Linked DNA regions of Homo sapiens. The protein of the gene in region 2 interacts with the protein of the main gene of each other region in a biochemical or structural test. Each region holds a gene or a part of one and is shown on either strand. Other genes may lie near its edges.

What was found.
Region 1: the proteins of TDRD3 (region 2) and FMR1 form a complex in vitro, tested with the Homo sapiens proteins (one study listed by BioGRID).

Annotation. Positions count from the first base shown.
Region 1 is NC_000023.11:147,914,512-147,921,918, forward strand, and holds part of FMR1 (fragile X messenger ribonucleoprotein 1), read left to right. Parts: intron 1-7,407.
Region 2 is NC_000013.11:60,399,577-60,408,206, reverse strand, and holds part of TDRD3 (tudor domain-containing protein 3), read right to left. Parts: intron 1-8,630. UniProt on the Homo sapiens protein: Scaffolding protein that specifically recognizes and binds dimethylarginine-containing proteins. Plays a role in the regulation of translation of target mRNAs by binding Arg/Gly-rich motifs (GAR) in dimethylarginine-containing proteins.

The sequences.
Region 1 (7,407 bases), on a different chromosome or scaffold from region 2:
ATAGAAAAGCTTTTAAAACTAAACAAATCAAACAACTTGAGTATAATGGAATTCAGACTTTGATTTGCCTAACATAACCACCATATTTGCAAGGACAGCTCTCTATCTTCTGGTGTTTATTCTTAAAAACTTAAAAGTTAGATTTAGCGATCACCAGAGCCACTACTTTTATGCTTAGGTATTTGTTTGACTTAGAAAAAATTGGTCACGTGTACCACTTTATAGTGCCCTGCAGGTGTTAAGATATGAAGGCACTTTGACTTACACCTCATAAAATCTTTACAAAGTATTTTCTAAATGAATAATGATGAAATAAAGTCTTTATTCTAGGTGCATCTGCCCCACATAATTTGTTTTCTTTGGACTAGAAGTTTTGATGTGTTGAGAATGGTAATGAATTAACTCCATTTTAAATGTAGAATGCGTATCACTCCAATATGAATGCCCTAATGAATCCTAAGATTTGTAGGTTTTGTGTACTAGTATGAAAATTACTAAAGATGGAAAAATCACATGTTGGAGACATAAGATACAAACCTTTTTGTTTTCTGAAAATACAACCTCTGATTTCTGATTCCTTGTTGTAATATGGTGTAATTATACTAGATTGTAATTTTGTTGTTAGATTATACTTTTTTAAGTTCAGTGTTTGAGGACAGACTTTCATTTGGTTAGTAGTATTATGGCAGCTAGCAGCTAAATATGATAAAGTGTACAATCAAAAGGATATTTTTAATGAAGATATTAGTGGTCTAACATGTCATTTCAGATACATAGCTGAAATGTAGTAAAATCAGTTTTACTACAAATAAACTTGCATAAGGTTTATAAATTTATAAGTTTATAAATCAACTTGGGTAAAGTGTAAATAAACTTGCACTCGTGGTTTCTCTGAAGTCTCCTGAGCTAACTTTGCATAAAGGTGTTATTCTGTACTTCGAGGAAGTGAATTATTGGGGTCAACCACATTTTTTTTCCTTCCTACAGTCTGATTGCCCTTTTTAGTTTTTAGGATCTTTGTGGCTGCATCATTTTTCCCCTTTTGAACTGTGCATTTTCTAACCCCATACTTAAATATTCTCATAACCTCCAAATTATTAATTAGATGCAACATTCAGTGGTATATTACTGGAGTTTCTGATTTCTGCCCACTATAGGAATGTGCTTCCTGAGAAGATTGGGATCGTGATTATAATAATAGTTAACAGGGGATGAGTACTTTCTAGGTGCCAGGCACTGTTCTCTCTGATACTTTATTTGATGTATTGTTGTTATTCCCATTCTTTAAATGATGCACAGAGAGGTTAGGTAAGTGACTTACTACCAAGTGTCAGGGCCATTAAGGGTCAGGATTCTGAATTCCTGAAATGATGAAATTTAGCTTGAAGAAATTGGTTTGATTTCCTGCTTAGTTTTCAATTTCATGGTGGTCTTTGATTGTATTTTGTGCTATAACACTGCCTTAGCATCCTATAACTATAGTTACAGTGTTATATTACCATTTTTTATTGTTAATACAAAGCCATCATGAAATAATTCAGTTTATGTGCCAGCTTTTTTTGTTACTAATTCTTGAACCTTGGCGCTGTACTTCTTCATGTGGATGCCTGTTAAGGAAAGATAAAGTTAGAAATCTTTGACCCTGCTAGGAAATTTGTCTTTGTTATATTGGGAGCTCATAAAACTGAAGTATTCAAAAGTTAGAATACATACACACAAGAAAAATTAGTAACTAATTTAATAATGTTTTCTTTGCACATGTCTCTGTTGTCTTTTGGTCAGAGTGAAGCTAAATGTGTTTTTCACATAATTTGTAGCCTATATGAAGTCCTGGACATGTGGTATGGTTGGAAGGACTGTTGATGAGGTTTATTGTCTCTCTTTATTCTTTTATGTTGTTAGTGTCCCCATACAACGGGGCGGGGGGAGTGGGGACAAAATGATAACTTGCTTTATATATGAAGCCTTGGGTTTGAATCATACTGTTATCACATTTCCTATGTCCCTATCCTGTCTCCTGCAGGTTTTCTTTCTTGGTTTTCTTTTTTGGTTTTCTTTCTTCCTTTCTTCCTTTCTTTTCCTTTCTTTCCTTTCTTCCTTTTTTCTTTCCTTTTCTTTTTTCCTTTCTTTCCTTCATTTCTCTCCTTTGCTCCTTTAGTTTGTTTCTTTGTTTCTTTGGTTTGTTTCTTTGTTTCTTTGGTTTGTTTCTTTGTTTCTTTAGTTTGTTTCTTTGTTTCTTTGTTTCTTTCAACAGGTCTCACTGTCGCCCAGGTTGGAGTGCAGTGGTGGGATCTCAGCTCACTGCAACCTCCACCTCTCGGGTTCAAGCCAGTCTCATGCTTCAGCCTTCCGGGTAGCTGAGATTACAGGCATGTGCCACCATTCCTGGCTATTTTTTGCATTTTTAGTAGAGATGAGGTTTCGCCATGTTGGCCAGGCTGATCTCAAGTTATCTGCCTGCCTCAGCCCTCCAAAGTGCTGGAATTACAGGCATGAGACACCGGGTCCAGCTTCCAGCAGGTTTTCTTTAGGAGGGATATTTTACAATGCTGTAAGTTTTTCCTAACGAGAATTATCATAGCACTACATGTTCTGTCTTCAGTAAGTGATACAAGCTTACTGATGATGTTGTAGTTATGTTCATTGGTGGTCGGGTGTACATTGAAACTTTAACACATAATAGCCTCTCCTGTGAGCAGTGGTTCCTGTTGGTAAGATACTTTACTAAGGGAAGGAATGTGAGGTGTCGCTGGGGAGAGTTTACCCAAATAAGGATGGACTTTCTGTCTTTGTTTCATCAGTCCTGGTAATAGAATGTTTGAATAGATAGCTCTAGGCATTACATACTTTCATAAATATGATTATTGTAATTACCTCTTTGGCCCAGTTGCTAGTAAATTAGGGACCCCTTAATGATTTATTTCCTGTTTATTCACCCTGATGAAGAACTTGTATCTCTTTTAAACTGTACTTTATCGCCTTTCTCAAATTCCAAGATTCTCATCACATTTTTTTTCTTCCCAAACTCTAAATAACCTTTTAATATTAAGTATCTTTGTGGAAACATTGTTTTCTTTTTCTATCCCAATTTTTAAAGCTTTTTTAAAAAAAAGAGTGCTTTTGTTGGGATGTACATTTTCCAAATGCAAAAACATTTATGATTCTGTGTCTCTTATAAAATATGACACTCTCTACTTTTCTCTCATTTATTTAGTGCCACCTATGTGTGTAATTTCATTACCCACAGCAGTCTTAGGAGGCTGGTCGAGTTCCTTATTTGCAGATGAGGAATCTGAGGTCCAGAGATCACTTCTTGGTGAGAGTCTCACAGCTATTAAGTATTAGAGCCAAGATTTTGAACGTAGGTCTGATTCACAGCAAAACCGTTAACCACTAAGTACACTGACTCCAGTAAGAGCCCTAGTCCTCACCCAATACACTTTAATTCCCCTGTGCATTCATTCAAATTCATTGAATTTGCTGCCTTTGGAAACCTCTCAGGAACCTCCTCAACCTCTCTTCTCTACAGACATCAGCTTTGCCTGATAGGTAGGGATCATAGCAAAACACAGTTTTCCAAGGTGGTGATAGGTGGAGTGATAGTGCTCTGGAGATGGCCAAAGAAGGAAGGTATGAGTGTATCTGTGGGTGGGTGAGTGGTGGATAAGGGGAAGGACAGAGCCAAAAGCGACGGCTATTGGAAAAACTATGATGAGAAACAGGAAGATGGAACCTTGTTGGAATTAGTGAAAGACCTTAGAATTCACAGGAGGTATTTGTCCTTCACGCGAGTGTAGACCAAACGTAACCTATGAGTTTCTTTTATTCCACTTATTAAAGCAGCAACCAAAGGTATTATATACCTTCTGTATTCACTTAAAATGACTGATTTTGAAAAAGTCATGCAAACATCCATTTACAGATAAGCCTCATTAACTCAAAGGCAGTGGCCCTGTTGGGCTCTGATGATTACTCAAACCATTTCTGACACTCTGACACTACATCCGGAAATCATCCGGAAATGCATTCAGAGCCTGCAAAAGCTTTTTTTTTTTTTTTTTTTTTTTTTGAATAGCTACAGCACTTGCAGATCTTCCTCCTTTGAGAGAATATTTGATTTTAGGAAATAAGCAAATGTAGATAAGTATGATTCAACTGGGCAATAACTTTTAGGCAAAGAGAAAAAAACAAAATATAGCAATGTAGTAATAAGGCTGATATTATAGTGCTTTTATGATGAGTCTGAAAACAGTCTCCAACATTTGTAAATGTTTTAAATCGGGTCTGTCTACTACAGTAGCCCTTAAGCCATATGTAGCTATTGAGCACTTGACATGTTGCAAGAGTGAATTGGAGACTGATTTTAATTTTATTTAATTTTAATGTAAGTAGTCGCACATGACCCGTGGCTACTATGGTAGATGGCATAGTTTTAGACAAGGGCAGTAGTCTTGGGTAGATACTTGATTTACTTAGAACATTTCTTTACCTAGCTGTAACAAGGTTCTAATAGCTGATTAAAGGACAACATTTTTAGCATGTAATATACAGTAAGGAACTAATGTTAATTACTGCCAAGATGTATAAACATTATGAAACCTTAAACAAGGATGAACACAGAAGCAGTGGCCCTTCTTTGTAAATAAGGGGTCAGTTACTTCCTAATAGGTGTCTTAGTTTTAGTTAATAATCTAATAGCACCCCCAAAAAGCAAACTGTTAATTTGTTATTAGCCATCCTGTAAAGACAAGGGAGAAATCGGGGCCAGGAGAGTCCTCTTTCCCATTCTCCATAATTTTTACGACCTATAGAAATAAGAGCCTAAGAGTGACCAGTTCCTGCAACCTAACTCAAAATTAGGCCTCTCTGTTGAAGTAATAGTGAGGCAAACAATCCCTTGAAGCACTGGGGCATGCACCCTTATGAAATCTAATAATTCTAAAATATCATTGGCAGTATTAAGCTAGAGTTCTCAAAATATGCTGTAGAAAATATTGGTCATTTAAATATAGCTGAGTAAAAATAAGCAAGATCAAAATGATAAGAAAATGTTGATTTCTCCCCTTTTGAACCAGTAACTAACTATAAGGGTATATACCCATGCTTAACTTAAAAATAATTATTTAGCCACCTTGGGTATAGCACAACATATGGATGCCATTATAGTCCACCTTGATCTTACAAGGAAGCTTTCTTTTAGCGTAGCTTTACTTTTATTTAAGCATTATTGAAGAAGCTTGGTATCTCTGTTTAAGTTGCTTCTGTATCAGTGTTTTCCAGGGCCCTGTCTCAGCTTCCATAGTTTTTCTTAAGAGCAGCTAATTAATGCTTCACTCCATATGCTTTAATTTGATATTTTGGGAAGTTTCATTTTTTAAAATAATCTTTTTATATCATAGGCCTTTGAAGACATATTTGTTTACAAAGACATCTGCATTGAACCATTTGTTTTTAAAAACATGTATCGGGCATGTTCTATATACCAGAAACTATGCCATTTACTGAGGACACCGAAGTTAGAGAATGGTCTTAATCCGAACTAGTTATTGTCTCACTATCCAATATGGATATCAAACATTCAGCGTCATGAGGATTTACTACTGTGTTTTCTCCCAAGAGTTTTATAATTTTAGCTCTTATATTTAGGTCTTTGATGCATATTCATTGATTTTTTTTTGTATGCAGTATGAGGTAAAGGTTGAAACGTATTCTTTTTGCATGTGGGTGTCCACTTGTCCCAGCTTCATTTTTTGAAAACACTATACTTTCCCCATTGAATTGTCTTGGCTTCTTTGTTGACAAAGGATTTATTATTTCTGCCACAACCCAGCTGTTTCTCACTGTCTAAACCTTTATGCCTGCTGCCCCGTAGGCTTAGTGGAATGCCTCTCCATCCTCCACTCTCTTTTGTTTAGCTAGTACTTCCTTATCCTTTAAGGGGTCAGTAGGAACCTCACCTTCTTCAGTATGTTTTCCTTTGTCTTATCAACCTACCACCATCACCCACACACATACCTTTTCCCTAAGGCTGGGATAGGAACCTCTTAGGCAATGATCTATTTGATAAGTACTCACTGAGTTCATACTAGACACTCTGCAGTATATCCGTAAATGAAGTAAAACCTGACACCACCCTCAGAAAACTTACTGTTAGTGAGAAAATGGGCTATAATAATAGAGTGGGGTAAGTTTATTGTAGGGATAAGCATAGGATGCTATGAGAATGCAGAGGACAGGAATTTAACCTAGACTTCTCAGTTCTCCCGTTGAAGTTGACATCTGAACTGAAATCTGGAAGACCAGTAAGAGATAGCTATGTAAAAAGAGGGGAAGGACAATAGGAAAGAAGGAATGGAGAGAGGCCCAGAAACTACAGAGTATGGCACAAGTAGTTTAGCATTGTTGGGTCACAAATTCTAAGGATATGAAAGATAAAGTTGAAGAAGTGGTGGGGCTGGGGAGGACAGCTCCTGTAGAGCCTTTTACAGCGGGAGAAGGAGTTTGGCTATGGTCCTGCAGGCAGGGAGAAACCACTGAAGGGGAGAAACATACAGAATAAATTTGAGTAAGAAGCTTAAATCTCCCCAAGCCCTTTTAAAATAAATTAAGATATAAAGCCTTTGGGTTTCTTTATGCTTTGTCCTATTCTTCTAATTGTCCAAAACAAAACAAAAACCTTCCTTTTCTGTACCTATTAAAAGGTTAATTTTATAAAGTTACAGACAGCATGCTGATTAAAGAATTCTTGATAATTAGCTATTTTGTCTGTCTTTGTGTAGATTACTAACAATTGTGTCATCAGATTTAAAAGATCTAAACCTCTGGACTTTATATATTTTTTCTACAAGTACTGTGAGATTGAGAACTTAATTCAACTCTAGTAACTGGACTTTTTAGTGTTGTTTGCAGCATATGATTGTTAAAGAAAGTTTAGTATATTTGTGTGTGCGTATATATATATATATAGATAGATAGATAGATTTGAGGTTATATTTAATCATTGACTATTGGTATTCTAAGATTTTAAGGAGAGAAAGGTAGGTTACAATATATGGCTGATATATGGTTCTGGAACAATTTTCTTAGTTTTCAGTAATTCTACCTAAAATGTACGTCCAGCTTTGCACTCACTACCACATTGTAATTTCCAGTATACTTGTCTATTTTTCGAGATGTTGAAATCTGTGGAGAATTTTTTCTCATGTTTAGTGTTTTAGCTATGTTTATCTCTAGGGTATAGCACATACAAGGTGGCAATATAGATGTGCTTAATGAATAAAATGATCTTCAAAAACTGACCTTCATTTGAAGTTCTATTTTATTCATAAACACATAAAACGTTTGGTATCACTGTAAAATTTAACTAAAAACAAAAACTATCTTTAAGCTCACAAGTTAATTTAACGT
Region 2 (8,630 bases):
ATGGCGGGAGGTGAAAGGCACTTTTTACATGGCATTGGCAAGAGAAAATGAGGAAGAAACAAAAGTGGAAACCCCTGATAAACCCATCAGACCTCCTGAGACTTATTTGGGCTTACAGTTCCACACGGGTGGGGAGGCCTCAGAATCATGGCGGGACGTGAAAGGCACTTCTTACATGGCGGCGGCAAGAGAAAATGAGGAAGAAACAAAAGCGGAAACCCCTGAAAAACCCATCAGATCTCACGAGACGTATTCACTATCACAAGAATAGCATGGGAAAGACCGACCCCCATGATTCAATTACCTCCCGCTGGGTCCCTCCCACAACACATGGGAATTCTGGGAGAAACAATTCAAGTTGAGATTTGGGTCGGAACACAGCCACACCATATCACTGAAGTGCTAAGCTGTAAGCAATTCTGAAATATCAAAAAGAAAAGAATTTGTTGCTATCTCATAAAACATCAAATGTGAAAGAAATAGTTCTGAAAACAGTTTCTACTAATATTACCTTGAAACAGAACATTTCAAAGACCCTAAAGAGACAGCTGGTTGTCTCGGGCAAAGAAATGTTATCAACATATTTCAAACTTTTCTTCTAACTAAATACAAACATATACCTTTAAGTGTATTATCTTCATTATCACTAGTTATATCTCTTAACAGTTGAATTCTATAAACAAGGTAGAAAATATCAACAAATAGAGAAAGCTTTCTATAACAGGCTATTTCCTGCATTTCTGAGGAGATCACATTTTTCATAACATTTTGTTTAAATTTCACAACATTCATTTCAGAAATAACAATTTTCTACTCTACAAAAAGCTTGAAGAAGTTTCATGTCCCTTGAGGACACAAAAGCAAAATGATGAATGATACCAAGACCAACTAAGATGAGAGTAACATTCATTCCACAAGTATTTAAGTGTCTACTGTGCACCTTACATCGTGCTAAATGCTTGGAATACTACAAAAATATGAAGACTTGATCTTTCCCTTACAGAAGCTTACAAAGTCATAAGGCATCAATCAAACTATCAATGTTATGGACACCTAAACTTAACATATGTCCCTATTTCTCTCTCAAAACAAAGCTTGAACTGAGTCAATTCCAAATTCATTATAAAATACTGGCTTAATTTATTTAGCAAGTTTTTCCATCAATACTTACATTTATTATTTCACATTAGGTATTTTACAAAATCCACCTTTATTAATTTTTAAACTCTTCATGGTCCCACTTAGAAATTTAATAAAATAAAATTTTGTTTTCTTAACATCTTCATGTAATATCCATGACAGACTGCCTTCTGAAAAGCTGCAGCTAAATTTTATTTGTATTTTATATATTTAGAGGAATTTGGGGAAAGATTGTGGGGAATTTTTTAAAAGACTTTCAGATATCTAAATTTATAAAGAGTGTTTTAAAAGGTGCTCTGAGTCTCCAATATCAGCAAGTCAATAAACTAACAGTGACCATATCAAATAGTCTTATCAAAGAACTCCAAAAGATATGTCCATTTTCTGTTCTTAGAAAACTCAATGACTTTATAATGCATTCTAAAGCTTTTTCCCCTAACTAGCAGGTCCTTAAAGGCTAATTCTCCTCTAAAAATGCTAAAATTTCTCAGTACTTGAACCTAGCCTCTTACTCAAAGCTTGGTTCTTACATCAGTACTGTCCAACAAATATAATGTCCACATATGTAATTTTAAATTGTCTTGTAGCCATATTTTAAAAAGTAAAAACAGGTGAAATTAATTTAATAATTATTTTAACAAAATATATTTTAAAGTATGATCAATATAAAAATTACTGAGATCCTTACACTCATTTTTAGTACTGTCTTCCAAATTCAGTGCGTATTTTACATTTATAGCACATCTGAATTTAGACTAGACATATTTCAAGTGATCAGTAGCCATATTTGTCTAATGTCCACCATACCGGACAGCTGCAGCCTTAGATGATCTTATCCATGCACCATTTCAATCACCACCTATACTGGAATGACTCCAAATTTATCTCTAGCCCAGTCTTCTCTTCTGAGTGCAAGATTGGTATTTCCTAATGCCTAACATCTTATTTTAGATGACTTAAAGGGACCTCACACTCAAGTAATGACCAACTTAACTCATGACCCAACCCCCAAAAATGCGACCGTCTTCTAACAGTCCCTAACTGAATTGTAATTGATTTGAGGATACAAGTCCAAAACCTAGAAATCAAGCCTTTAACAACTCCTGTGTCACATTCATGTCCAATCTGTCAAAAAGTCCTGTCCATTTACCTTCCAAATATCTGTCAAGTCGATCTGCTGCTCTCTATCTCAACCATCACCATCTATTTCATAGTCCTGCCCAGCTCCATTTTCTTCAGTCCAAGGATACTTCAAAACCATGATGTTATTCCCACCATAACCCTCACATCATGATTAAAACTATTCAACTGATTCCTATTGCCTTCAAAATAAAAATAAATCCTAACATGGCCAACAAGGTCCAAGCTATGTGACCTGTCCCTAGGTAGCTCCTAATTCCATCTCACTACACTGTCCCTCTGTCTTGCCCTCTAGCCACCCAGGTCCTTCAGATGTTTGTATTCACCATGCTCCCTAGTGCCCTATGACTTTTGCAGATGCTGTGCTCCCCTCACTTAGTCAGTTACCACTCATTCTCCAGATCTCAGGATAGCATTCTCTGACCACCATGAAAACACGAACTCCCCTTTAGTAATTCTGCTATTCTCTGACCACCATGAAAAGGCTAATTCCCCCTTAGTACATGCATTTGGAATGATGTCTCTTCTCCTCTCTAGTATTCTTTATAGATGCAGTATGTTTGAATATGTAATTAATGGGTTTTTTTTCTATAAGACTATATCTGACTATACTAAGAAAGTGCCTGCCACAATATGCTGTTTAAGAATTATTTGTTGAGGCTGGACACTGTGGCTCACATCTGTAATCCCAGGACTCTGGGAGGCCGGGACAGGTAGATCACTTGAGGTCAGGAGTTCAAGACCAGCCTGGCCAACATGGTGAAACCCTGTCTCTAATAGTCCTTTTTCATGCTGCTGATAAAGACATACCTGAGACCGGGCAATTTACAAAAGAAAGACATTTATTGGACTTAACAGTTCCACATGGCTGGGGAGGCCTCACAATCATGGCAGATGGCAAAGAGGGACAAGCCACATCTTATGTGAATGGCAGCAGGCAAAAAGAGAGCTTGTGCAGGGCACCTCCCATTTTTAAAACCATCAGATCTTGTGAGACCCATTCACTATCACGAGAACAGCATGGGAAAGACCCATCCCCATAATTCAATCATCTCCCACCAGGTCCTTCCCACAACATGTGGGGATTATGGGAGCTACAAGATGAGATCTGGGTGAGGACGCAGAACCAAACCATATCAACTAAGAATACAAAAATTAGCTGGGTGTGGTGGTGGGCACCTGTAATCCCAGCTACTCAGGAGGCTGAGGCAGAAGAATCTCTTGAACCTGGGAGGTGGAGGTTACAGTGAGCCAAGATCATGCCACTGCACTCCAGCCTGGGCAACAGAGTGAGACTCTGTCTCAAAAAGCAAACAGGGCCGGGCGCGGTGGCTCACGCCTGTAATCCCAGCACTTTGGGAGGCCGAGGCGGGCGGATCACGAGGTCAGGAGATCGAGACCATCCCGGCTAAAACGGTGAAACCCCGTCTCTACTAAAAATACAAAAAATTAGCCGGGCGTAGTGGCGGGCGCCTGTAGTCCCAGCTACTTGGGAGGCTGAGGCAGGAGAATGGCGTGAACCCGGGAGGCGGAGCTTGCAGTGAGCCGAGATCCCGCCACTGCACTCCAGCCTGGGTGACAGAGCGAGACTCCGTCTCAAAAAAAAAAAAAAAAAGCAAACAAACCAACAACAACAACAAAAACGAATTATTTGTTGAATGAGTGCATTGATGAATGTGCCTTGTTTTTTCCTTAGCCAAATATCAGAAGACACAATATTTAAAGAAAACATATACAGTGCCTTGTTTTTTCCTTAGCCAAAGAGCACAAGACATGATATTTAAAGAAGACATATACAAAAACCTTGCTTATACATCATCAGTACTGGAAAGGCTTCCAACCTTCCCAAGTCTGGGTTAACTGCTCTCAGATGTGTTTCAACAAAATCTTGCAAGTAAAATAACAGTGTATATCATGTTTAAATTCTGCCTGTCTTGTACATCATAGCTCAGCAACACAGTGCTTTGTGTACAGGAGGTATAAATATTTACTAAATGTATTTCAGTGCACATATTATTGTATAGAGTTACATATTTCTCTGTATATGCCTTACTTATTATTGTAAAGATATTATAATTCAAGAGCACTATACTGCTATTTGTCTCTACTTTTAAGGCCATAAAATTGTACTACATGTGAAAAGTACATACACACACTCACATCCATCCAATAGAGATGTGAATCCTATTGGAGTTCCAGTGCTATGGTACATATAGGCTCTCTGTCTATGCAGTTCTTTCCTCCTTTTGTCCATCACCAACCTGTTTCTTTTCTGCTATCAGTGTCTTTGATTTCACACCCTTCTTAATACTTTACATTATTACCATACATTTTTGCCCCATCTTGTTTGCTTTTCTTTGCTGTGCTATGACTTCACAAGTGTTTCTCAAATTTTTACATGAAAATTTCTGGGCATTCAGTATTCTTCTTCCAAAATTTATCTGGCAATACTGTTCTTCGGCTACTTCTATATCCTAGACCTTTCAGAAAGAATGAATTTCTAGACTGATGGCACTTAACTGAAACATGATAAGTCAAAATGCCAATATTCTTTTGTCAAAAGGAGAAAACATAAGCCAAAAAAGTTGATATAGTCATATTTTTATGGTTCTTAAAATGTTACTATGCAATTTTAGTTGATTTAGCAAATGCTGCTGTATGAAAGGAGAAAATTATTTTCAACCTGCTGAGGTAGCAAGTTTCTTTTTATACCCCCTTTATGCTTAAGGCAGTCAAGTCTACAGGCAGTTGAAACTAGATTTATAGGTTAGTCACCAGAAAAAAAAAAAAAATCACTGCAAACAGCACCTTGAAACCTGAACACTTGCACAGTTTAACAAAACATCCAGTCATTTTTCGCAGTTTACAGTATCAGCAGAAGCTGTAAAGCAATATGTAACATATTTTGAGACAGAAAGTCGGCAAGGCTTATTACCTTTGAACATTTTCATTTCACAAACAATATAAGCCAAAGAGATAGTTACAAATGTTCATTAAAGAAATAGAAAATATTTCAAAATAGAAGGATGTCTCCAATAAGCTCCACTAAAATCTGATTAAAAAGCAATTGGCTAGCCAGGCGTGGTGGCGCATGCCTGTAATCCTACCTACTTGGGAGGCTGAGGCAGGAGAACCTGGGAGGTGGAGGTTGCGACGAACCAAGATCGCGCCATTGCACTCTAGCCTGGGCAACAAGAGTGAAACTCCGTCTCAAAAAAAAAAAAAAAAAAAAAAAGCAATTGGTTTCCTCTAATGTTCTTCAGCATCTAAAAAAGTGTTTTAATGATTCGAATCCTTTCCAAAAGAGTATACCAAGCTATTTATATCTGCCTGTCTTGTACATGTGACTTACTTTAAAGGCCATGAAGCATGGTAATTAAAGGTATATCATAATTCTAGATTTTAAAAACCCTGCACTTAATATTAAACCTTATAAAGAACTACCAATATTCTCTACAAATATTTACCTATTTCTAAGAGATGTACTGGAATGGTGAGGGAGCAAAACTTCTAATACCCTCTTATTATATGCATAAACTCATATTTTATGTCTATTACCACTAGTATAAGAAGGTATAATTACATTACTGCTACTGCAGAGGTTGTACTGATGCTGCTACACAATGTTTCTCATCTGAAGAGTGAGATCATTCACCAGCAATCTCCTGGAAAAAAGGTGTGTCTCTAAGAAAACTAGAACCAAACAAACAAAGGCACAGCAGTGGCTGCAGGCTGGGTATCTGAATTTCTTAGTCATGATCATTAATGTGTTTGAGAAGAAGCCTCTATGTAATGGAATGTGAAAAGAAGCCCTTCATCTGTGGACAGGTCAAAAACTAGGAATTAGAAATTCCAGCAAAATATCCTGAAGTTGTTCCACATCTTTGTAGTAGCTATCTTCAAAGTAATGTGGAATAGAGTGGGCCCTTGAATACAAGAGTGCAATAATCACTTTATAACCTATACTGTCATTATGCTTCTTATTTTTTTCTATTTATCCCATGGTTGTTTTCCAGTTCTACATTTTGACAAAGACCTTAATAAGCTGTAGGCTTTCTTAGTTGTTCAAAGGTGAAATGAAGGGAAAGGAGTTATGTATGCACTTGGGCCAGAGGATGTTAGCATGGTGATAGCACCAATAATCAAATGGAGATAACCCCAAAGGGGAAAGTGAAATTCAAGAGGTAAGAAGGAGACCTTTGTTTATCCTCTCCATCCCATCTCTGCCCTCAAAACAAACAAACAAAACAAAACCTGGAGTACTCCATGGCTAACACCTGGGTGTTAGAAAACTGGGCTTCCTAAGACTACATGTTCTTTCAGAACAAAATGGAAATGCTATTTCATATGCTACCTTAAAGGGTCTTCAACTCAAACTACTGGGTAAAAGAAGCAAAGACACACAATACAGTGTCCCACTTTTTCAGATACAGTCATCCCTCAGTATCCATAAGGGATTGGTCCCAGGGCCCCTACAGATAACAAAGTCTACTGATGCTCAAGTCCCTGACACAAAATAGTGTAGTGTAGTATTTGCATATAACCTACACACATCCTCCTGCATACCTGAAATCATCTCTAGACTACTTAAAATACCTAATACAGTGTAAATGCTATGTAAAATTATATTTTATTTTTTATTCATATTATTTTTGTTGTTGTATTGTTATTTTTATTTTTTTTTATTTTTCCAAATATTTTAGATCTGTGACTGGTTGAATCCAAGGGTGCAGAACCCACAGATATGGAGGGCCAACTGTATTCTTAAACCTTAAAAAATACAGAATTTACCAGATTTTCAGATAAGCCTAGTACACAATTAGTTGATTCACTGCAAGGCAAAGATTTATTTGATTCTAATAGGATCACCCCTCAGAATAAGCCCTTTATCTTTCCTGGACTAGGAAAGTAAATTTACACACCACAAAATGCTTCAACCCAATTTTCAATTTTTAAATGTGTCACTTTTGATCAATAATTTAAATTAGATGCGGTCACTTCTGTTAATTTTTGGTGGAAATGAGTACTGAATCTTTATTCTAGACATCTGGGCTCTATTCTTGGTTCTGCCATTTATAACTCTGAGCAAATTATTGAAACTCTCTGTGCTTCAGTTTCTTCATATGCACAGAGAGAGAGTTAAGCTATGCAACATTAATTCCATGGAAGACACTTTTTTTTTTTTTTTTGAGACACAGTCTCGCTCTGTCGCCCAGGATGGAGTGCAATGGTGCAATCTCGACTCACTGCAACCTCCGCCTCCTGGGTTCAAGCGATTCTCCTGCCTCAGCCTCACCAGGTAGCTGGGATTACAGGGGCCTGCCACCACGCCTGGCTAATTTTTTTGTATTTTTAGTAGAGACGGGGTTTCACCATTTTTGCCAGGCTGGTCTCCAACTCCTGACCACCCGCCTTAGCCTCCCAAAGTGCTGGGATTACAGGCATGAGCCACCACTGCGCCCAGCCAGAAGATACATTTTCAAAAACAAAAACACAACTGATTAGGTACCCCGTGACAGGTTTCTGTTAAAAACAAACAAACAAAGGAGGAGATGGAAGAGAAAAATTCAAAATGTCCAGAGATCAACATTTTGAATCTTTCTCCTGTGAGTAGAATTTTATATTTCCACTCACAGTGATCAGGGATATCATCCTAAAGGAGAATGAACCTCTGAAGAGAGAAAACAAAAATGCAGAGTGAGTAAAATTGTTATCTAGATAAATTCAGAGTCAAATTTCTTCTCCCCGTGAAGTTATTCCATGCATATAATTAAGCTTTACAAGGTACCATTTAGTGCATTATTTAAACATTATCACTACTCTGTAGAAAGCCCTGGAACATTCAAGTTCAAATCAGCAAAATCTAATAGTTTGTGTGCTACTGGCCATTGAAGAACAAAAATTATTTTAAGTCCGCCAGGTAGCTACTTTTGAAGTTATATTTTAAAATACTGATTTTTATAGGGGTTCTAATGAAGATTAAAACCTTAAGAAGGAAAAAAACTGCGCTTAAAAATAATGTAAACTTGAACAGATTGGTCTACATAGATCTTCTGTACCCCCCTGAAGATCACATTTTCAGAATTGTAAACTTTTCAGCACTAAATATTTCCCTAATCTGCTATTTTAGGTGAAGCCTATAGAACAGATTTAACAATAGTGTGTCCATGTTTTAGCATCTACTTCTTTTTAGCTTCTACAAGTAACTAAGTACATAGATTTGAATACTAAGAAAAATGGTTTGTCAGTGACAGTTAACAGAGAACCCCAAGTGTAAGAGCAAACTCAGGATATAAGAACTAAAATGAGTTGGTGAAAGCCCTTCAGTCAGAAATTTTCCCTCCAGTGCT